Regions from separate parts of the Homo sapiens genome. Here region 1 is linked to region 2. The links come from fine-mapping of genetic effects on gene expression. A gene starts in region 2. The other region holds a variant in brackets. All regions are shown on one strand. Distances are from middle to middle.

Region 1 (12,089 bases), 150 kb after region 2:
CCCCAGCTGGAGTGCAATGGTGCGACCTCAGCTCACTGCAGCCTTGACCTCCCCGGCTCAAGTGATCCTCCTGCCTCAGCCTCTTGAGTAGCTGGGACCACAGGCATGCACCACCACACCTACCTAATTTGTGTATTTTTTGTAGAGATGGGGTTTCACCGTGTTGCCCAGGCTGGCCTCAAACTTCTGGGCTCAAGAGATCCTCCTGTCTCGGCCTCCCAAAGTGCTGGGATTACTGGTGTGAGCCACCGCGCTCGGCCGGTACACATTTTATTAAAGGCACAAGCTTTTTTATGGGTCTCCCCCTCTACCCAGAATGCCTTGGTGTGTTGCTTCATAAGTTGAGAATAATATGCTGGCAAATATTTTAGAGTGTAGACCCTCCACGCAGGTATGCACCAATCATTGCCGTCTCTGAATGTTTTATCTCTGATTAAGCAGCGTGGATTTTTTTTACTGTTCCCCAAAATACACACTGCCTCGGGGAGCACCCACTATCGGGGTAGCTGAGGGTAACCTGGACCATACAAATATTTAATCAAACTGCACCTCCTGGGAATTCCTAGTGTGGGTGACGCACCCTCCCTCATAATGAAAATCTTTTACCCCGATCCTGCAGTCACACCTCCTCCCACAGACCTCCACATGCAGGCTTTTTCCTTACCACACACATGCTGTCTGGAGAGGAAGCCAAGAGCCCTTCCAGAGAGGAGACTGTGAAGAAACCGAATGTCTAAATAAAGTCAAATCTTCTCTGTGCACCTTGCAATCATCATTCAAAGAACATTGCACACATACCCTCCTGCTCTATATTAAGTACACCTTCCCTGCTGGCTCAAAACAACCCCGAGGCTTGGGGGTAGGCACGGCCATAAATAAAGCGTGCTTTAAGCTGGCTCTAATTTAACTAGAGTCTTTGGCGAGGGGAAATGCAAAGAATATTTAAACAATGACACACAACCAAAACTAACAGGCAGGCCTCAAAGGGGTTCGTCATTTTTTTTCCATCTAAAATTAAATTTCGTGGGTTTTTTTTTTTGCAGAACTTTGACTCAATTGCTTCAGGTTCTTGTCTGAAACATATTTGAGTCCCTCTCTCTTGTCTCTGTCTCTCTGACTCTCTCTCTGATCTCTCTGAATCTCTGTCTCTGATCTCACTAACTCTTTCTGTCTCTGTCTCTGTCTCTCTGTCTCTCTGATCTCTCTTTCTGACTCTCTGTGTGTATGTGTCTCTCTCTCTTTCCCAGACCTCCGCCCCCCACAGTTTTATCTCCAGACAGTGTGTGTGAGACAGGAAAGGGTCAGCGTGGGGGGATGGGGAGTGCCTGAAAGATCTAGGAGTGATGGGTTGACATTGTTCAGAGATTAGAGATTATTGGAAATAAGTTGGAAATGCTCTTCTGAGAGCTTTGGACTTCTTGAAAGAAATATATTCTATTTTGTTTAAAACAGCCTTGCGATCAACCAGTCAATCCATAGCTGCTTGTTGAGAACAGCGGGAAAACGGAAACATGATATTGGCGCTCAGAGAGCTTGGCTGGAGCTCCAGAGACCAGGGAAAATCTTCAGTGGCCAAAAGCACAACACGACACCTTACGGTGAGGCACGGACCGGACCAGACAACATCCATCTTCCTTTCCTCAAATCTGAGACAGTCCCAGAAGGGTGGGACCCAGAGAGGGGCAGATACAGGCCACACTCTACAGCCAGCAGTCAACACACCCATCCCCCAGAGGATGGTCCTGGGCCCAGACCTGGCAGAGAATGCAGGGAGACCCTCCGGGAGGGGCTCGCCCAGGGCCAGGGACCCAGTCGTCTGGAGACAGTCAGATGAAGCCTGCACGGGTTGACTTCTCTCTGTCATTCAGCTGTGCGTTTGGGGGCACCTGCTGGTATATGGCAGTGTGCACCATGGAGGGTGTGAAAATGAACTCAGAGTTTGCGCCTCAGGTTCCCAGAGGACTTTGCTCATGTCCCATACGGCCACTCACCCTGCATCCTATGTGTTTACAGAATTCTCCAACCCAGCATTCAGATCCAACTACATCTCCTGAGCCCCCAGCCCAGGCCCTGGCCCATGCCAGGCATGCAGGGGCTGGATGAATAAGACAGAGTCCAAGCCTGCAGGACTAAAGGCCCTGCCCAAGGGTAACACAGGCCCTCGAAGCCATGGCGTCCAGCAATAGGACAGTGTCACCCACTAGTTGGGGAGCCACAGGACCTCTGGAGGGGTGAGGGTGCCCGGAGGGTGCATGAGATGCTTCGGAGGGAAAGTGACTTCCCAGGAAGCCCTTGGACAAGGCTGGGAGCCTCCACTGCAGAGAGGGGAGGAAGAGGGTCCCAGGTGAGGAGAAATGAATGTAAAGGGCTCCGGAGCAATGGGGACAGGCGGCCACGCAGCGCTGGAGCAAGACGTGCACGGAGGAGCCAGGAGGTGACGGGAAGGGCCCTGGAGCAGGTGCCAAGGAGGCCGGACGCCCTGTGGGCCGTGTCCCTCCTGCCCTGTGCTGCGGTCCTCACACCACCAGTGACCACAGCAGGAGTAACGACGCCCAGCTTCACTGTGGGCCGGGCGCGGGACAGGCGTTGCTTTGAGCCTTTTTCTGGAATTGATCCTTTAATCCTCACAAACGCTCTGTGGGGAGATCCCTCTATTTTACAGATGAGGAAACCCAGTCTCAGAAAGGCTGAGCTGGCATCCCAAAGTTGAGGAGCCCAAGATGGCAGAGTGACTCCAAGCCCTGCCCCTCTCCTTGCGTCCCCCCACCCCCGTCCTCCTCTCCTGGTGTTACCCTCCAGGTCCCCTTCGCCTGGCATTCCCCCTACAGGTCTCCACCTCCTGGTGTCCCACTCAGGTGCACTCTCCTGGTATCCTCCCAGGTACCCCTCTCCTGGTAAAACCCAGGTCCCCCTCTCCTGGTGTCCCCCGCCATCCTCCTCTCCTGGTATACCCCCAGATCCCCCTCTCCTGGTATCTCCCCCCAGATCCCCCTCTCCTGGTGTCCCCCTCCAGACCCTCCTCTCCTGGTGCCCCTCCCGTCCACAGGCACTGCAGGCAACCCCTCCACTCCCGACCATGGCTCCAGCCCTCCCACTGGCTATACCTCCACACTGGGCCCATTGCACAGCTAGCTCTCGGGTTGGACAGACATCTGATGGCCACATCCCTGTGGAGGGAAGTGTCTCTAAAGGACACACGGTCCCTGAGGGATGTCTTGTGGTGTTCTGTTGTCAGACCACCAGGTCCCACCAGCAGCCATGCCTGTATCTCTTTATCCTCTTGGTCCTGACCCCTTTGTTCTGGTCTGAACATGGCCACTGCTCCTGGAGCCCCAGTGAGGGGAACCAGAGACCACGGCCACTGTCTCCCAGGGTTCCCAAAACCCAAACAATGGGGGCCGCCTTGGTGTGCGTGAGCCCTCCCTCCTCCTCCCTCAGAGTCTCACAAGTCCTCCACAAAGCAGCTGCTTCTGCCTCACAGAACCATTTATGGGGCCAGTTACTGGACTGCTACCTATGACCTTCCATCTCCACCCCAGAACCGAAGCACAAAACTCCCACCTCATTGCTCCCTGACCCAGACGAAAATTCCTCCCCTCTCAGCCAGAGAGGAGTGAGTGAGGGTATCTGAGGCTCTGTCTCGGTTTAGCCTCAAACAAAGGAACTGTCTCTGTGCAATTATTCAATATGAATTGTCAATGTCTATTTCCCCCGTTGTCTTCTTTTCAAACTTTACTAGGCATAGTCATAGAAACTTAAATTTCCTCCCTACCTAGCAATTCTAATAAAAAGCTTTGGTCAGTTATACACTGAAATTTTTAAGGCTGGAATGGTGGGTCATCTAGATTTGCCAAGAAACAGCATGGGGGATTATGGGGAATATTGATAAAATAAGGTTAATTAGGAATTGAAAGCTGTTGATGATAGTGTACACAGAAGCTTATCGCCATATTCTGTTTGCCATTATGAATGCGCAAAATCTTCCAGCAAAATGTGGATGAGAAATAAATAAATAAAGTAAGAATGCTGTTGGGGCGAGAGGCTCCAATGCATGGCAGCACCACCGTTTGGGGGTTCTCTCTTTATTTCATTTCTCCACGTGATCTCTGGCACCCTAGTAACCAAGATTTGGCTGGCTGTGTGTTCCTAATCCAACAAAACCAGCCAGAGCTGGAATTGAAGTCTTCGAGGTGGAGTGAACCCCAGTGAGCCCACCCCAGGGCTGCCCCCCCAGGTCCGCCTCACAGACCCACTTCTGCAGCCCCCCGTCAGGTCCCCCTCACAGACCCACTTCTGCAGCCCCCTGTCCAAGTCGCTGCCCCAGGTCTGGACACGGGCTGGAGGGTCATCGTGGTAGTTGCCTCTGAGTCAGCAAAACGCTGCTGTCACCTGTGAGGTCTGCAGTGCGTCTCAGAGGAGTGAGGTCCTGGAGGGGTCCTGCCAAGCCGAGATGCCGGAAATGGGGAGCTGCCGGGGAGGGGAGATGGGAGGTTGGAAAACGGTGTCATGGGAGTTCTCTCCTGGGCCTTTAAAGTGCCCATTCTCAGACAGAGGAGTCCAGAGGGACGTCTGGAAGCTTGGTTTGGAAGAAATTCCAGACTTCCCTGGGCAGCCAAGGCATTCTCTAGCTTTCTACGATCCAGGCCTGGCCCCTGCCTCATAAATCTCGCAGGAAGCGCTCTCAGGAAGGACGCTACTGGCCTGGGGCAGCCTCGGAGTTGAATGAAGATGGTTTGACTCTGAGAATGACTGGCCCCAGCCAGATTCCCCGTGGGGCAGCCCGTCTGTTTGGAAGTCTCCTTCCCCGCCGGGCCTGCACACCCACCCCTCCTGCCACATCAGCCCCAATATCTCTGCATTGAGCCCAGTGGGCACCTTCCCTTCCGTTGCTCAGAGAGCTTCAGAGACAGACCCTTACTCCTGCATTGATGTCCATCCAAGGGACGGGGCTCAGGCTGTCCCTTCCAGCTCACGAAATAGGTGCAGAGCCAGGCAGAGCAGCCCAAGTGTGACTCACACCCCGCCAGGTCCCGTGGGCACTTTCTCAGCAGGGTTGTGGGGGCAGCAACTCCATCCACTTTCCTCTGTCCCCTCACCCGCCCACCACTGCCCACGGCCAGAGTCACTGGAGCAGCCTCCATTCCGTCCCTGCACGGCAGTCACCATGATCTCTCCAAACCACAAGTCAGGGTGTTGCCTCTGCTTACAAGCCTTTGGTGACTGCCTGCCGTCTCAGACATGCTCAGCAGCAGTCACACTCACCGCCCCGTCATGCCTGTCTCTCACCGTCCTCCCGGCTCGCTCTCCTCTCACCAGGCTTAACGGCCACACTTCCTGGGGCACTTCTGTGACCCCAGGGCCCGGCTGGTGCCCTTCCACGGTGGTGCTTCACCACCTTGCAATTGCTGGTTTACATCCCTGATCACCCAGACTAAACGTGAAGGGCCAGGACTGTGCTGAAAGTCCTGAAACCCAGAGATGAGAGCTCAGCTCAGACCGCACGTGATGCCTCGGTGTGGACATGTGCCCAGCTGAGCGTGCAAGCCCCTAATGGCCGCTCAGCAATGCTTGTGTTTTCTCCCTTGAAACTCTGGAGCAACTGCAGCCAAACATCCTCTGCTCACTCTGTTTGTATCTCTGTCCTCTAAATCAGCCCTCTGACTTCCTCCCCGCCTGCGATGAGACTGTGAAGGAATAACAACATCCGGAGGAGATTGTGCCCCAACTTGGCTGTCGAAGGGGCCTCATCAGCCACCTTCATGGCCCAGACGGTCAAAGGCTGACCCCACAGAGTAAGGCTGGCCCTAGGAAGAGTGGGTGCTGGGCAAGGTCCACCGTGTGCCGCAAGATCCCCCATTTAATGCAAACAACATCTCAATGAAAGATAGCATCAAAGACGGCAGTCTGAAGCCCAGGGAAGGGCGTGGACTTTGAAGTTGGGCAGGTTTGAGTTTAAGTGTTGTTTTGCCACTTCTGCTGTCTGTACCATCTTGGCAATCTGTAAAATGCATATAACACCTCGTGTGTTAGGGTGGGTCCTTGCTGCAATAACAAACAACCCCAGATCTCAGTAACTGCGTGCAATGAAACACCTGCTTCTCCCTCACACGAAGCCGAATGTGATGGTTTCTAGTTACATGGTTCTCTTGGGTGGGCTTCTCCCAGGCCGCAGCTCCACTGAGCTCCATAGTCCCCCGCTGGATCTCCTGCCCTAAAGTGGTCAACAGATGAAGAGAGACGGTGTGAGTATTGGGCAGGAGGTTTCTGGGGCAGCCTGGAGGTGGTGTCCTCCAGCATCACTCCCAGGGGCCCCGGCTGCAAGCAGGACATGCTGAAGCTGCAGTGTTCTGGGAAAGACATAGCCCCGCTTCTGCCACACCTGCCTGGCAGAATTGTCATGTTTTAGGGGACGGCTCGTAAAATGGCTTAACAGGCTCTTGGCCCAGGGACTGCTAGAATAGTGAGTTTCCTTCTTCTCTTCGCCTTTGGTGATGTTGGGGCTGGAAGATTTCTAGAATGAGCTGTGTCTGTAAAGAAGCCTCAAGTCTTTTTTTTTAAGCACCCGCGGATGAGGCTTTTTGAGGCACTAGCCGGGCATCAGAGGCCCAGGGAAGTTCAAGGGTTCACCCTGATTGGCCTGAACATCTGGGAAGTTCTGGGCTGAGCACGATGACAAATGTGCCTCCCACCCCCACCATCCACACTCATCTACCCACACACACGGGTTCTGTCCTGCCCCGAAGGAAGATGGTTTCAGGATGACTGGATTTCTGAATTTCCTCCGTGCAGATTAAGGAGGCTTAAGAAGCCCGCCTGTTGGGAGGAAGCCTCCGACCGGAGCTGCTCTGGCTGGGAAGGGGTGGCTCAGGGTGGTGCCTGCTGTTCAGCCAGGCTCCCCGAGGCAGGTGGGATGAGACACCTGGGTGGGGCGGGCAGAAGCTCAGAGTCTGCACGGTGCCAGGGAGGATGATGAGGGCGAGGATGGATGAGCCCACAGGGGTGCATACTCCACCTCCCGAAAACACAAGGAGCTCAGCGGCTGCACACACAGGCAGCACAGAAAAGAACAATGGGGCAACTCGAGGGCGTTCTGAGGGTACCTCTTGCCTACATCACCTGGTTTTAGTCATCTCCCACGTGCCTGCCTTCAGGCTGATGGACTTCTGTGAGATCCCTGGGTTGCTGGCTTTGAAAGCCACTGGGTACCGACCACCCACATCTTGGCAGGGGAGCTCCCATTGCTAACATTGCTTCATAAAGTGCCACTGGAGAACAGCTGTTGAGTGGTGACCAGCCCCCAAGGAGTCAACCGCCTTTCCCACCCCCAACTCACCAGAGTCCCATGAGGACACCCCACACTCAAACCCAATCTGGACAAAACTGTCAAGGACCCTAACCCAGGCGTGCCCCCCACCTTCTCATCCAGCTCCCTTTGACTCACTTGGGTGGTCGCAGCCGCCGGCTGTGATTTCTGGCCCATGCCTAGTTATTTTAAAGGCCAAATTTTCACAGCCATGCAACAGGCCCTTATCTCCAGGCCTTCAGATGCTCCCATGTGGCTTGTTTGATTCTCCTTCATATCAGCCCTCTCTCAAGACTCAAATTTCATTTCAAACCAAATTTCTCTTTTCTCCATTCTGTTGACTGGGCATCACCATGGCAACCCCCACCCCCATTGCAAAC[A/C]TCCTCTGAGGAACGGGCCCACATGCAGGGGCTTGAACCTGTCATCGCTGTGAGTCAAGGTGAGATGAGCTCACTTCCCTTGATCAGCCATGAGTACTGAGTGCAGCTTCAATTTGTGTCTTTGTCACTAGGACAACTCTGTGACTAGTGTGCTTCGGTTAGGGCAAAAAGTCCTTCTCCAGGAGAAAGAAGTAAGTAAGTTACCTGCCTTTACAGACAGTTGGTCCAATGGATAAAACAGGGGCTGCCAGAGAACCCTACAGAACAAAAAACCTATCATGCAAGATTATTACATATCTATCTTTTTTTCTCAGAAAAAGGCTGGGTGCTGTGGCTCACACCATAATCCCAGCACTTTGGGAGGCCGAGATGGGTGGATCACCTGAGGTCAGGAGTTCGAGACCAGCCTGGCCAACGTGGTGAAACCCTGTCTCCACTAAAAATGCAAAAATTAGCTGGGTATGATGGCATGTGCCTGTAATCCCAGCTACTCAGGAGGCTGAAGCAGAATTGTTTGAACCAGGGAGACGGAGGTTGCAGTGGGCCTAGAATGCGCCACTCTACTCCAGCCTGGGTGACACAGCCAGACCCGTCTCAAACAAACAAACAAACAAACGAACAAAAACCTACTAAATACCACCTATAACAAAAATGAATTTGAAGATTTCTCACAAACTCATGGTCACAAGCTTCTTTGGTAGTTGATTTTGTTGAAACAAAAGCTGACCATAAATCCACAGAAGACAATTATGAAGGAAAGCCACCCCACAAGCTTTGCTACATCCAGTGAAAAACACGTGCTGCACACATGAGTCTCCAGGATATGAACAAAATGTTTACGAGCCAAAAATTATGAAGAAGGTATTGATCTCAATACATTTTATTAGCATCCAAATAGCCATCCACAAATATTTGCTCAGTGATAAGGAGGAATGCTACCTTGTTCAACATCTATATTCTAGAAGTTAATCATTTTCAAAGAATCAGCTCATTAACTAATAAATAACAATGTTGTCTTCCACCATAGTTTAAGGCAATACCCCTTCTTTTCCTATCCATCTGCATGGTTTGTTTTGTTTTATGATGTGAATGTTATATATTTTATCAATATATGGACTTCTTAATGAGCCTGAAGACAAAAACCACATCCTTGCTGTGGCTATAGGAGGCGATATCTCTCCGAAGGTCACATGGGATCATTTCTGATGAATACACCAGGTATAAGGAGGTGTGTCTCTCAGACCTACAACAATCTAAGGAGGAATGCCCTAAACCTTGGTTCAAGGGATGATTTCATGCTTGTATACATACACAAAAGTCCATCAAACTGTATAGATTTGTGCACTTTATTATATCTTGGCCTTATTTTTAAAAACAGAATAAAATTATCAGTGAACCTCAGAGAGGGTCTCAGTTTCTCTTGCTTTTGACCACAAAAGTGTCAAATTCCTCCCAAATTATGGAGAGAAGCTAGAAGGGAGAACAACTAGGGGCTCAGGCAACACGGTTGTGAACTGTAGTTAACGTTTAAGGGCCGGGAGATCTGTATCTAAGCAAATCATCAGTAAATGCCAGCTTATCTCAGACTTTGTAAACTAATTTGTTTTATGCTTCCTGAATTCTCATTTATTCTCCTTCATTCTCAGTATTAGACAAAGTACAGTCAATGCTTGTCATTCTCAGTACTTCTGTTCTCTAAAGTCACCAAGAACAGTGAATTAGCAAATACAGTCAGCTCTCCGAATCCATGGATTCCAAAACCTCAGATTCAACCAACCCTGGATTGATAATGTAATTAGGCCTATGATGGTTACATCTGTACTAAACATGTCTATTTTACTTCTTGCCATTATTCCCTAAACAATATAGTATAACAACTATTTACATGGTATTTACATTGTATTAGGTGTTATAAGTAATCTAGAAATGATTTAAAGTATACAGGAGGGTGTGCATAGATTATATGCAAACACTATGCCATTTTATATCAGGGCCTTGCATATCTTTGGATTCTCGTATCCGCAGATGGTCCTGGAACAAATCCCCCAAGGATACCAAGAGACAATTATGCTGAACCATTGTTCCCAGGAGAAATATGGGGTATGTTCCTACCAGCCCTGACCATAGCATTTTTGTCAACCAATCCATATATAACTTTGTTTTATGTATGTTTCTGTTTAAAGGCACCTTATTTAATATAAAGTGTTGATTCATTGGTGGGTAAGTAGTTGGTTGGTTAGCGGGTGGTTTGTTGGCTGACTGGTTGGTGGGTAAGTGGTTTTTGGTTGGTTGGTTAGTTGGTGGTTGGTTGGTGCTTGACTGGTTGGTTGGTGATTGGCTAATTGGTTGGTTGGTGGTTGATTAGTTGGTTGGTTGGTAGGTGGGTGAGTGGTTGGTTGGTTGGTTGGTAGGTGGGTGAGTGGTTGGTTGGTTTGTTGGTAGGTAGGTGAGTGCTTGGTTGGCTGGTTGGTGGTTGATTGCTTGGATGGTTAGTGGTTTATAGGCAGTTGGTGATTTGTTGGTTGGCTGGTGGGTGGGTGAGTGAATGAGTGTGTGGTTGGTGTGTGGTTGGTTCGTTGATTGGTTGTTGGCTGGTTGAATGAATTAATAAATTTTGCTCTCAAAAGCTCATAGTCCCCCCCAAATCCCTTCTCCATCTGTCATAAAGTCTGATATTTCTAAAGTTAAGATCCTCGATTAAAAAGCATCATGGAAATGTAAATATTTAAACTGGATCACAGAACTATCTTTCCTGGGAGGTGAGAACTCACTAATGAGTTAATGAATGGCACAGGATTCATTTCTCCAGTCATTTTTCCCTTATGATTCCATGACACCCGTGGAAAGAATGGGCACAAGGTAGGTATGTGTCTATGGAAAAGAGGGAAGAAGTAAGAAAACATCTGGAGTAAGACTTTCCTCTCTAGTCCTAGAAAAAACCATTGTGATGCCAGGAAAAAAAATTATCTTCTCTCAAAAGAGTGTGTTTACCTTTAGACAACAGCTATCTGTTGTAAAGGCTCATCAGTCCCTCAGTGTGTCACTGTGATCACAAATCTCCAGGAAAGGAAGATTTTGCAGGCAAAGTTTCTGGGAAACATTTCACAAGAGAACGGCAGCCCAGCAAAATGTGCATTTGGGGAGCCTGGCTTGGGACATGCATCTTACAGCCTGGTTTGCTGCCAGGATCCCCCAGGACACTCTCAAAAAAACAGATCTCTAGGCTCCCCCGAAACCTTTGGAAATATTCTTGAGGGACCAAACAAGAAGCAGATACTTCCGAGAAGCCCACCAGGTGAATCTGACGATGAGCCCAGGTGTGGAATCTCAGGCAAGGCCTGGTGGAAAATCCGTGGTCTGCGAGGAGAGCTGCCTGGGAACCCGGCACGACGGGGAGACACTTGAAGGAGGGGCACATGCGCCAGAGGTGAAGCTTTGCCCTCTCCAGCACAGAGTGGGCCGTGAGCTGTCCGCCACAAAGGCGGAGAGATGAGGTAAGAGGGAGGCTGCATTGTTTTGATGTCCAGGCACAGACTTGGCATCCACCAGCCCAGGCAGCGCCACAGCCAGGCTGGCTCTGGAGGAAAGGGTGGGCCATGGCTTTGAAGCCAGGCAGGCACACTTCCTCCAGGGCCCGGGTCTGCATGCAGGGGCACGAGACTCAGAAGCCAGCTCGCCCATCTGTTTCCGTTACATGCAGATGGGGCAGAGGGCGGAGGGCGCAGGGCTGGATGGGGACCAGACTGTGAAGCCTTCGGGGACTGCGTCCAGCTGCATCACAGGTCTCATCTGGCCCAAGGAGGCCGGTGGGGCGGTGTCAGGGAAGCCCAGTGTCCAGGGCTTTGAGTGCTAATTCTTCTTCCTGGACATCGGTCCCCCTCCTCACTAGCTGGAGGCAGGGTCCCTGCCTTGCTTTTGCAGGCACCCAGTGCCTGTCGTCAAGCCTGGCCTACAATAAGTATGTGGTAAACATTCATTAAGTTGAACTGAATGCTCCTTTCAGTGAGAAGATGAGCTCTTCCATCTCTCTCATTAGACAGAGGTCCCCATCAAGGGGTTCACATCAACTGGTTGTTAACAAAAAGAGGGACCCTGGCCCAGCCAGCACCTGCACACAGGAAGCATTCAGTGATGCTGGCTTTGTTGATTTGCAATGACCATCTGCAAAACTCTCTTCCCTTTATCCGGGTGTGGGTTTGGTTCCTGTGTATCCAGATGAACGTAATTGCCATCATCGATACCAGATACCCAACCATGACCCCTTCTTTTCCCCTTTTTTCAACTTCTACTCTAAGTGTAAACAAGTTAAATGATTTGGGGTTGTTTTGCCCTCATCTGATTCAAAAAGAGGTGATGAAGCATCTCGGTTCTACCAGCTGTGTGATCACAGAAAAATTGCTCAACCT
Region 2 (12,089 bases):
GTCCCAGATATTTTCAGTTTGAAACAAGATGAGGGAAAAATCAGATAATGTGAGTATCTCATTTCTAGTCCACTGATGTACTCAGTATCTTTCATTAACTTTTAAAAATTGTCAGTCTGACATGGAGCTATGATTAACTTAGATTTACGTAGGAATTAGAAAGAAACTAGAAAAATCTCTTTTGTAGTATAATTTAAGAAATGCATCTTATCTTTTAGTAATTCCTTATTTCTTTGAAAGACTAAGTCTTAAAGAAAAAAGTTTCCTCAAGTGATAATAATTGGAATTTCACGTCTGAAGAGGCCTTCTGGGGTGATAGTTTTTGTGTCAACTTGGCTAGGCTGTGGCACCCAGTTATCCAATCTAACACTAGTCTGGGTATTGCTGTGCAGGCATTGTGGAGGTGTGGTGAACATCTCCAGTAAACTTTGACTTTAAGTAAAGGACATCATCCTCAATAATGTGAGTGGGCCTCATCCAATCAGTTGAAAGACCATAAGAGTAAAATGGAGATTTCTCTGAGGAAGAAATTTCTCCTAAGGATGGCACCTTTAGTTTCAGCTTTAGCTGTTACTCAGGAGTTTCCAGCCTGCCAGTCTGCCAGCCTGCCCTACTGATTCCAGACTTTACAGCCCCACAATCACACTAACTTATTCCTTAAAATAAATCACACACACAATACTGACTCTGACATACTTGGTGGCCACCCTTAGGTTCTGAGGGTGAAAAAATGGCAGAGTGATAAAAGTGTGGTATTTATAGTTACGATGTCCTTGTTCAAAGTTCCTTTCTTGGCCAGGCACAGTGGCTCATGCCTGTAATCGCAGCACTTTGGGAGGCCAAGGTGGGCAGATCACCTGAGGTCAGGAGTTCAAGACCAGCCTGGCCAATGTGGTGAAACCCCATCTCTACTAAAAATACAAAAAATTAGCCGGGTGTGGTGGCAGGCACCTGTAATACCAGCTACTCTGGAGGCTGAAGCAGGAGAATCACTTGAACCCTGGAGGCGGAGGTTACAGTGAACCAAGGTCACGCCATTGCACTCCAGCCTGGGCAACAAGAGCAAAACTCCATCTCAAAAAAAAAAAAAAGTTCCTTTCTTAAGTATTTTTCATTGTGAGCCAGTCAATTCACTGGCCAAGTAATGAGACAAACAAAACCTTCTAAGCATGAAAATTTGTTACAAAAAAAAAAAATTATTCAACTCTGAGCAATAATTCTGATTGACATTCTGACATTTCTGAAGTTCTCTTTGGTAATTCTCTGTTGGCAGCCTCACAACCACAGCCAGATCACTGTCCTTTGCCATTCTCTCTGGCCCCTACCATTGCACTGAAACCCCTTTCTCCTTCCTCCTCTGTTCTCCTCTCCTACTACTAATATAAATCAGTCTTTTAGACCTGCAATGTCTTTAGGAAGATAGTCTAAGCGTTAAGAAAAATGAATTACAGTCTACTTTGGATTAATAGCACCTTCTCTGGCCACACATATTTCATCTCAAATTTTATTGTTCTCTAAGCTCAACAGCTAGATTTTGGAGTTTTCCATTTTCCTCATTGGAATACCTAAGAGTAAACCAATATGGTAAACAAATGATTCATAGATGATTGATTGATTGATTGACTGATTGAGGCAAAAAATGAAACAACCTCCCCCCACATCACACATACACACACAGTGATAGATTTTAAGGGATGACAAACCTGATTTCAAATATTCTGCCCTATTGTGCCTATAAGTACACTTCTGCTTGTCAGAATGACAATCAATGCAGTCCACATACTTAGCTGTTGGACTACACTCCCTTTCATTTGGCAGGAACAATTAAGTTTGACCCAATTAAAAATTACAGTCTAATAAACAGTTTTGTAAATTAATCAATAGTAGATATAGTAAATATATTTTTAAAAATTTCAGACTTTATTATAACATTCTATATATAAATTATATGTATATGCACACATACAGACATTCATTCTCCTGAATGTAATTGCTGTTAGTTCATGAGAAGCTATGAGAAGATTCAGACAAAAAAGAAAAACGTTGATGCAAAGGGCAATTCTCTAGTTATTAAGACTACTAGTTTTCTAATGGTAGGTCATTGTTTGCAAATTTGCTACATTTTTCTATGGGAGCCTACAGACCAAAGGGGAATCATTTAGCTAGTGATAGCAATGGCAAACAAAATATCACATCAAAATCATCAAATAATTTGGAAATTAATAAAGTGTTTTGATGAACACTTTGTACTCTAATATATACATATATATATATATATATATATAAAACTTGGTAAGCAGTTTTGCAAAAATAGTTTGATTTACTTAGATAATGAAAGAAAATAGGTTTTTAAATTATTGATTTACATAATAATTTACATTCATTTATTGATTGTTGAATTTATTTAATATCAACTTGCAAAATGATTGGTGTCATCACATAGGGCTGAAGGTTTTGGAAATAATCTTTGAGGAAGTTCCCCAAAAGAATATTTGTTTTGCAAATCCATGGTTGAAAAAGTTTGGGTTACACTTTGCTCTAGTCAAGTTAGTAGGAATATCTTCTCAGAGAGGGAGTTCTAGAGTCTGATTTTATATATATGAAAGCTGAAATCAAAACAATTTCCTCAAACCCTATCCCGGTGAATATTTTAAGGGAGAAGGATGATTTGTGGGGAACTGAAAGAGAGAGGATTCAGAGAACATTTGTCATGGTTTTGGGACTGTTCTATACAGTGTAAGACATAGAACATGGGGACAATGGCATTCAGACACCAGAAAGTTGATCTCTTGTAAGATCAAGAGATGTCACCAGCCTTTCCCAGGTCTTCAATGACCAACCCTCAGAGCGGTCACTTTTCTTTGCTCTTCTTCTATGGTACCCAGCCATTTTCTGATGAAAATTTGTCTTCTATTCCTTATTTCCCTAATGTCTAGCACAGATCCTGGCATATTATAGCAGGAATTTAATAAATTCTTGTGAATAATTGAACAAAATCATAAGTTCTCAAGTGAATGAAAATTGGAAACAGTTGCTCTGCATAAAACAATAGTATTCAGGTCACTGGAAAGAAGTGCCCACCCCCACCACTGGAATCCCCACATTGACATCCTGCAGTATCTATCATTTTGTGAGTAGTTATTACAAGTTACCAAAGGACTGACCACCTCTGATGACACAATCAAAACCAGTTTCAGGACCTGCAAAGCTGAGGACAGACCCTGAATTCTGAGGATCTCACCGAAGTATGTTGAAACTATTAATATGAAACGGCTGTTTCTGTGGGTAAAAAGACCAAGCGTCAGCGATTCACATGGTCCTATCTTGTGAACAAAAGTTCTCTGAAAAGGAAGTTTGGAGAAAGGAGACTTTATTCTAGTGAACAGTTTGCAAACCAGGGAGACACAGCCTTCGGAGTAAAAGAAAGGTGATTCCAGAGAATAAAGGGGAGGGTTTGGCTTCTATAGAAAAAGTTCTTGTCCAGGTTTCCAATCAGATGTGTTTATGCAAAGGAAAGATTCAGACTTGCTCAGTTCAGATTGGGTAATACAGCTGAACCCTGATTGGATAAAGCAGATGAGTTCTGATCGGTTACATCAGGTGAGCCCTGATTGGTCAATTCGGGTAAATTGTGAAAATCCCAAAGGGGTGTGAGTTTTCTGGACACAGAGTAGTTGTGACCTACTTGGGACCTGACTTGAAGAATTGCTCTTACAGGTTTATTTTTGTTCATAATCTAAACATCTGCATCCTCTGAAGCTCTGTCTTGGTGGAGACCAACTCCCCAAATATTAAGAACATTTCTGTATTCTTACACTCTAACTGCTACAAAGCAGTACTTTCTTCTTTAATTTTTGGGGAGGGATGGGGAAGGTAGAACAGAAGTGGTTCTTGACCAAGGTCAACTTATGTTCAGAGCTGGTTCCTTCCGGTGGGTTCATGGTCTCGCTGACTTCAAGAATGAAGCCATGGACCTTCATGGTGAGTGTTACAGCTCTTAAAGGTGGCACAGACCTAAAGAGTGAGCAGCAGCAAGATTTATTGTAAAGAGTGAAAGAACTAAAGCTTCCACAGTGTGGAAGGGGACCCCAGTGGGTTGCCCTGCTGGCTGGGGTGGCCAGGTTTTATTCCCTTATATGTGCCCTCCCATGTTCCATTTTTGTCCTATCAGAGTGCCCTTTTTTCAATCCTCCCTGTGATTGGCTACTTTTAGGGTCCTGCTGATTGGTGCTTTTTACAGAGCACTGATTGGTGCATTTTACAATCCTCTTGCTAGCTACAGAGCACTGATTGGTGTGTTTTACAATCCTCTTGCCAGACAGAAAAGTTCTCCAAGTCCCCACTCTACCCAGGAAGTCTAGCTGGCTTCACATCTCAATGTTACTCCCTAATTTCTTACTCTTTTTAAAACAAAAACATTTTTCCCTCATGTTATAAAGGTACTGCAAATTCAATATGTCCTTATTTTTAAAAAAATTAAATGCAAAAAATAAAAATAAAAATTTTGAATACCTAAAGTCTACCTAGAGACATTTTAATACATTGACTTTTTAATACATTTAATACATTTTAATACATTATCTTTTTTCTTTGTATAATCTCTTGTAATTCATAACTTTGAATATACTGAATATACCTCTATACTTCATGTTTTTATTTCAAATTACCAGTATACTATTACATACTTCACACTTCATTTTTGTTGGCTGAAAATATTCTTCTCAGTGGATGAGCTATAAATCATTGTTTATTTAGGTTGTTTTAAATGTTTCTATTATAAACAATGTCATTAATAGCTTCATGTTTATATAATTTTATTTTTTAGGATAAATTTCCATAAGTGGAAATATACTGGCAAAAGAGAAGTGTTTTTTTGTTTTTTTTTTTTTGGAGACGGAGTCTCGCTCTGTCACTGGGCTGGAGTGCAGTGGCACGGTCTTGGCTCAATTCAAGCTCCGACTCTCTGGTTCAACTAATTCTCCTGCCTCAGCCTCCTGAGTAGCTGGGATTACAGGCATGCGCCACTCTGCCCAGCTAAGTTTTGTATTTTAGTAGCGACAGGGTTTCACCATGTTGGCCAGGATGGTCTTGATCTCCTGATCTCGTGATCCGCCTGCCTCAGCCTCCCAAAGTGCTGGGATTACAGGCGTGAGCCACAGCGCCCGGTCAGGAGAAGCTATTTTTAAAGACTTTGACACATATAAAGCAATATTTAAAATCAAAGAAAGTGTAATTTGTTTAACAATTTTTTTTTTACTTGAAGCGGTCTTTTATTTTATATTATGTCTTTTGCTGACTTTTACAAGCAAAGGATGAAGTCACTTCATTCTGTTTTGCTAGGGAGAGACTGTGTCATGCTTATTGGAAGACATAAGGGCTCATAATTAGATTTTGCTGGTTCCCTAGAGACAGTCCCGGGAACACACTTGCATAACCTTTGGTAATTGGAAATATATCTCATATTGGCCACGTGCACAATAATTCAGTGTGAATATGGCCAATAAACATGCCTTGTTTACAGGTCATTAGTTTGGACCTCTCTTCTCCTCAAATGCTAAGAAAGATCTGGTGAATTAAAATGCTTCCAGTCCATTTGCCTTGGCCTGTAGTGAAAGTCCTAATGAACAATGAAGGAGGTACCGGGCCTTAGGGACTCAGGGATGCGCTCAGGAGTTAAGGGCAAATTTTCCTAGGTTCTTTCCTAGGCAAGTAGATCCCGGGAGCGGTGGAGGGGCGGGACTCCACGTCTCCTAGGAACCGCTGCGCGCTCACTGATTGGCTGATCGCTGCTCAGCCGCCATTTTCAAATCCCCGGATGACGGCGGTGGCGGCTGCAGTCCGCTGACAGGCGCTTTCTGCCTGGCAGAGGCTGGCGGGCATCGTGCCCGTCCCTGCCGGTCTCCCGGGCACCCGGCCACCGCCCCACCCCCTCCTCCGTGCCATGGAGCCCGAGCTGGCGGCTCAGAAGCAGCCTCGACCGCGGAGGCGAAGCCGCCGGGCCTCTGGGCTCAGCACGGAGGGAGCGACGGGGCCTTCGGCCGACACCTCCGGGTCGGAGCTGGACGGGAGGTGAGTGTGGGGGAGGGGAGGGCCGAACGGGAGGTGAGTGTAGGGGAGCGGAGGGCCGAACGGGAGGTGAGTGTTGGAGAGGCAAGGGCCGGGGGGAGGGGAGGGCTGGCCGGGAGTTGGATGTGGGGGGCGGCGAGTGGGGGTGTTGGTGAGGGCCAGGGGGAGGCGAGGGCCGCTGGGAGGTGAGTGGGGGGTGGGGGAGGTGACCGCGGGGTTGGGGGGGGGGACGGGGGCCGCTGGAAGTGAGGGTGGCACAGGCTGGAGTGACAGTGTGCCTGGCCTTGGACCGAGGTCGGTCCTGAGACCCCAAACTGCGATTTTCCCTGCCTGTGGCAAAGGGGCGGGTTTATTGAGTCTCCTCGCCTCCTGACTGTTTCTCAGGGGAGACTTAGGAAAAACCACAATGGTTTTGTTCTGCACACCCAACTGGCTGTAGGCTGGCGTTCCCAAATGCCTTTGCTCAGACCGAAACTGTCATGGTGAGCACCACGAGAATGGGCTTCCATGTCCTGAGAAAGAAAAGACTAAGGGATAAGTTGACTTCGGGATATGTTATGAGATGCCTATTAGAGAGTTCATCACAACCATTTTCGTGTTTTTTCTTTTTACTTTTTGTGGAAGTATACATTGAAATGAGAGTGTATGACTCGTGTTTGGCTCAGTGAAATTTCACAAAGCGAAGCTCAGGGGATAGCTAGTGAATTAGGAGGAAGGGAACCAAGTGAGAACAGTATCCAGGAGGCCAAATGAAGAAAGAATTTCAAGAAGAGGACGTGGCGAGCTATGTCAGATGTTATTGATAGGTCAAATAAAATGAGGATTAAGTAAAATAAGATGAGGATTAAGCTAGATGAGGAATGAAAATTAAATTTGGTAATGAGAAGAGAGTATTGATCTTAGATGGTTTCCAAGAATGGTTACAATATCGAACTTAGAGTGTTTTGCAACAGGTTGAGAAGAGAATGTGCGATTTGTTCAGAAAATAATGTGAGTGCCAACACTAGGAATATGGAAATGGAAAAATACTCTTGTTACTATTTAAGATTTATAATCTAGTGGGGAAGAAAGATAAGTAGGTTAATAATTATTATAATATGTGATAAAAGTTATTATAGTGATATACACAGAATGCCGTAGATTAAAAGGAACACTTAATCCTGACTGGAGAGAATAGGAAATGATTTCCTATTGTAATCCCTGAGTCTTTAAGGACCAGTTTAGAGAGCAGATGTAAATGGATGATTTCAGGCAGAGAAGCATGTAGAAAGGCCCTGAAGCAAATGAGTCTGATGAGTTCTGGGTATATATTCTATTTTATTACTATATTAACAGTGATATTTGTATAGAGGAGAGGAAACCAATATGGGGAGAAGGAGGAGGTAGTCATGAGAGATGATGCTAAAGAGGTAAGCGCCACATCATGAAGAGACCTTGTATGCCTTGACAGAGTTTGGGTTTTATCTTCATGGTAATGGGGAAATACTGAAAGACTTTAAATGAGCCAATGGCATGACATATTTGCATTTTAAAAGATCAGTTTGCCTTCCATGAGAAAAATAAGCAACATTTTGGAGTCATCTCACTCTTCATATTTTATGAAAACTATTCCCCAAAAATGTGCACATATACATAAACATTTCAGGAGATTTGTGGACCCAGCTGTGTATACCAAATTAAAATTTCCAAGTTTAGCTGATGGATTGGTAGGAAATCAGTCTGCAGTAGTCTAAATGAAAAAATGATTGTTCGAATCTGATAGCTGGCAATGGGATTGGTGAAGAGAAGTTTCACTGCAACAGGAAGACAAGAAAGAATAGAGAGAAATAACACAATTTTGTGGGATAGACTCTTAAGAAAGAATAAATTCCCTTGATGTGCTGTGCTGAGTTAACAAATAGAGGGAGAGGTTGAACAGACAGTAGAGGAGAAAAATGGTTGAACAAGGATCCAAGAAGGCAGAAAAGGACAGAATCCAAATTCAAGGTAGAGGATTTAGCCTAACAAGAAGCTATGGATGATATATAGTTTTGAAGAATGGGGTGTGTTGTGAGCAGGAATTTGAGGACTTTCCCACCAGGCCTCTATTTTTTGTGTGAGGTAGGAAATGATACATTGTGAGAAAAGCGTAGTAACACAGGCAGCATGAGGAGAGTGAGACACAGTTAGAAGAACCATGGAGAGAAAATGGAGAATTAAATAACATATTCCTTTTCCAGAAAAGATGTAAGATCATCTACAAGAATACGTAAAATATTACAAGATAGTATTAATTGTGAGGCAAGAAGCAACTAAGCACTGTATCAGATTCAGAAATCATAAGGAAAAAGATTTGTGTGTATGATTATGTGACTATTGAAAAACGTTCTGCAGGCAAAACTCAGTATAAACTAATTTGAAAGACAAATACGTACAGTACAATTTACCCACTTAAATTGTACTACTTAGAACATTTTCATCACCTCAAAAAGAGCATTTGTACCCTTTAGCTATTGTTCCTCTCCTACCCCTTCTGCCCTAAAACCTAATCTGTCGGTCTGTAGGAATTTCTCTGTTCTGGACATTGCATATGAATGGATTTATGTAATGTGTGTGGCCATTTTTGGTGGGCCATCCTTTGCTCTTTTTTTTTTTTCTTTTGAGACGGAGTCTCAGTCTGTCACCGGGGCTGGAGTACAGTGGCATGATCTCGGCTCACTGCAACCTCCGCCTCCCGGGTTCAAGTGATTCTCCTGCCTCAGCCTACCAAGTAGCTGGAACTACAGGCATGTGTCACCACGTGTGGCTAATTTTTTGTATTTTTAGTAAAGACAGGGTTTCACCATGTTGGCTAGGCTGGTCTTGAACTCCTGACCTTGTGATTTGCCTGCCTCGGCCTCCCAAAGTGCTGGGATTACAGGCGTGAGCCACCGCACCTGGCCCTGTTCATTTTTAAATTTCTTTTTTATTGAGTTGTTAAGAGTTCTTTATTCTGGATACAAGTCCCTTATCAGATAGATTATTTGCAAATATTTTCTCTTATTCTGTGGTTTGTCTTTTCACTTTCATGATGTGCTTCGAAGCACAAAAATGTTTTAGTTTGTAGTCCTACTTGTCTATTTTTGCTTTTGTTGCCTGTGTTTTGGTGTCACATCCAAGAAATCACTGCTAAATCCATTGTTATGAATCCTTTCCCCAGTGCTTTCTTCTGAGAATTTTATCATTTTAGCTTTTATATTTGGGTCTTTAATCCATTTTGAGTTAGTTTTTGTATATAATGTGAGATGACGGTCCAACTTAATTCTTTTTCATGTGTCTATCCAGGTACCCCAGCACCATTTTTTGAAGACTGTTCTTTCTCCCACTGAGTAGTCTTAGCACCCTTGTCAAAAATCAGTTGACCTTAAGCATGAGAGTTTATTTTTAGACTTTGACTTTTATTCTCTTGATCTATATGTAATAGCCCTATGCCATTACCATGGTGTTTTGATTACCGTTGCTTTGTATAGTAAGTTTTGAAATTGGGATATGTGAGTCCTCCTACTTTGTTCTTTTTTTCCCAAGATTGTTGTGGCTATCCTGGGTCTCCTGCAATTCTATGTGAATTTTAGAATCAGCTTAATCGATTTTTACAAAGGAGTCCACAGGGATTCTGATAGAGATTGCATTAAATCTTGTAGATCATTTTCAGGAGTATTGCCCTCTACAGAGAGTTAAGTAGTCTGATCCATGGACAAGGGATGTTTTTCCAATTATTTAGATCTTTAATTATTTTCAACAGTGTTTTGTAGTTTTCAGAGTATAGTTCTGCATGTTTTGCTAAATTTATTCCTAAGTATTTTGTTCTTTTTGATGCAGTTGTAAATGGATTCATTTCTTTTGAAATGGGAAAAGTTCCCTTTTCCCCCTCGCAGGGCGTGCACTGGAGGTGTGCTCGCTTCTTCGGTGCCCTGCTGTTCAAACCTCTAGGGGAACATATAGATAGGCAGGCTGTGGGGCTCCAACCCCATAGCCATGTCTATGGGTGAATGTTTACAGCTGAAGCCTCAGTGGGCTTGTGTTACAGGGTACTCTTAGTTTAGCCATCCGTAGGCGGCTTGTATTCATCAGCTCAGTTAGACCCCTGCCTTATTTCAAGGACAGGGGGCCTTCTGTATCCCAGGGTTCTTGCCTTGATGTACTGGAACAATCAGATGACACGTTGGCTTGGATAATGATTGCAAGCTTTTATAGAGTGGAAGTAGCTCTCAGCAGATGGGGGAGCCAGAAGGGAAATGGTTTTGCCCTGGTGTCAGGTTGCCCGATTCTCCTCCAACCTCCCTGGCCAAGCTCTGCGTCATTCTGCGAATCGATGGCCTGCCAGCTGGCCTGCCAGCGTGCTGGTGTACTCCCACGTCGATGTGTTCCTCTTGACATCCAGCCACCTGTGTGTCTGCCTGCTAGGGTCTCGGGGGGTTTTTATAGGCACAGGTGGGGGCGTGCTTTTATAGGCACAGGATGGGGGTGTGGTGAGCCAGGGTGGTCTTGGGAAATGCAACATTTGGGTAGGAAAACAGAAATGCCTATCCTCACTTAGGTCCGTGGGCCCAGGCCTGGGGATGGAGCCCTAGCAAGGGACCACGCTCTCCTCTACGCAGCACTTCCCTGCCCCGCTTTGTATCACTTTATTTTCAGTTTAATAATTTCAATTGTATAGGAATACATACAATTGATTTTTGTATATCGATCTTGGATCCTGCTACCTTGCTGAGCTCATTAGTTCTAATAGTTTTTTAGTGGTTTCTTTAGGACTTTCTGTGTACAGGGTCATGTCATCAGCAAATAAAAATAGTTTTACTTCTTTTTCCAATCTCTGGATGCCCTTTACTTTTTTCTCTTTCCTAATTGCCCTGGGTAGGGCCTCCTGTACAACGCTGAACAGAAGTGGAGAGACGGGAAATTCTTGTCTTGTTTCTGATCTTAAGGGGAAAGCATACAATCTTTCACCATTAAGTATGATGTTAGTTGTAAGCTTTGTAGATGTCCTTTATCAGGTTGAGGAAGTTCCATTCTGTTACTAGTTTTTGAGTGGTTTTTATCATGAAAGGTTTTAGGGTTTTTTTTCTTTTGTCTATTGAAATGATCATGTGGTTGTTGTTATTACTGATGTGTTACATTAATTGATTTTTTGGGATGTTAAACCAACTTTGCCTTCCTGGTATAAGTCCTGCTTGGTCATTGTGTATAGCTTTTTTAAATATATTGTTGGATCCATTTTGTTAATATTTTGTTGAATATTTTTGTATATATATTCATAAGATATTGATCTGTAGTTTTATTATCTTGTACTATGCTTGTCTGGTTTTGGTATTGGGATAATACTGGCCTCATAAAATCAGTTAAGAAGTATTCCCTACTGTTTTGTTTTTTTTGAAAGAGTTTGTGAAGAATTGGTATTCTTTCAATGTTTGGTAGAATTCAGTGTAAAGCCACCTAGGCCTAGACTTTTCTCTGTGGATAGTTTATTATTATTATTAATTCAATCTCATCTCTTGTTGTAGGTGTCTTCTGATAGTTTGTTTCTTATTAAGTCAGTTTCAGTAGGTTGTATCTCTTTAGGAATTTGTTTCATCAAAGTTATCTAATTTGTTGGTGTACCCTTCCTTGTTCATAGTATTTCTTTATAATCCTTTTCATGTAATGTCAATAGTAATGTCCCCTCTTTTATTTCTGATTCTTGTAATTTGTGTCTTCTTTCTTTTTATGATGATGGTCAATCTAGCTACAGTCTTGTCAATCTTGATCTTTCCAAAGAATGTGATTTTAGCTTCATTAATTTTCTTTGTTCTTCTATTCTTTGTTTTATTTTCACTTTAATCCTTATTGTTTCCTTCTTCCTGCTTAGTAATCTGAGTAATCTGCTCAGATTAGTCTGCATGCTTTAGGTTTAGTTGGCCCTTTTTGTTTCCAGTGTCATGATTATAGATTAAGTTACTGATTTGAGATCTTTTTCTTAATATAGGGATACAGCTATAAATTTCCCTCTGAGCATTGCTTTAGCTGCA

What was found. PIP is the estimated chance that this variant, and not a neighbour inherited with it, causes the effect.
Region 1: its variant is fine-mapped to the expression of NET1 in whole blood (INTERVAL, PIP 0.91).

The regions. Positions count from the first base shown.
Region 1 is chr10:5,559,095-5,571,183 of GRCh38, forward strand. It overlaps LOC105376381 (a long non-coding RNA gene), which reads right to left and starts at 7,787. Exons shown (of 2, transcript XR_001747274.2): 1 at 7,442-7,787; 2 at 4,067-6,211. RefSeq lists an enhancer at 1,636-2,137 and a silencer at 4,850-5,076. The variant A/C (reference allele first, on the strand shown) is at 7,684.
Region 2 is chr10:5,406,752-5,418,840 of GRCh38, forward strand. NET1 (neuroepithelial cell transforming 1) reads left to right here and starts at 5,806. Exons shown (of 12, transcript NM_001047160.3): 1 at 5,806-6,069. The coding sequence starts at 5,942. RefSeq lists a silencer at 5,718-6,147.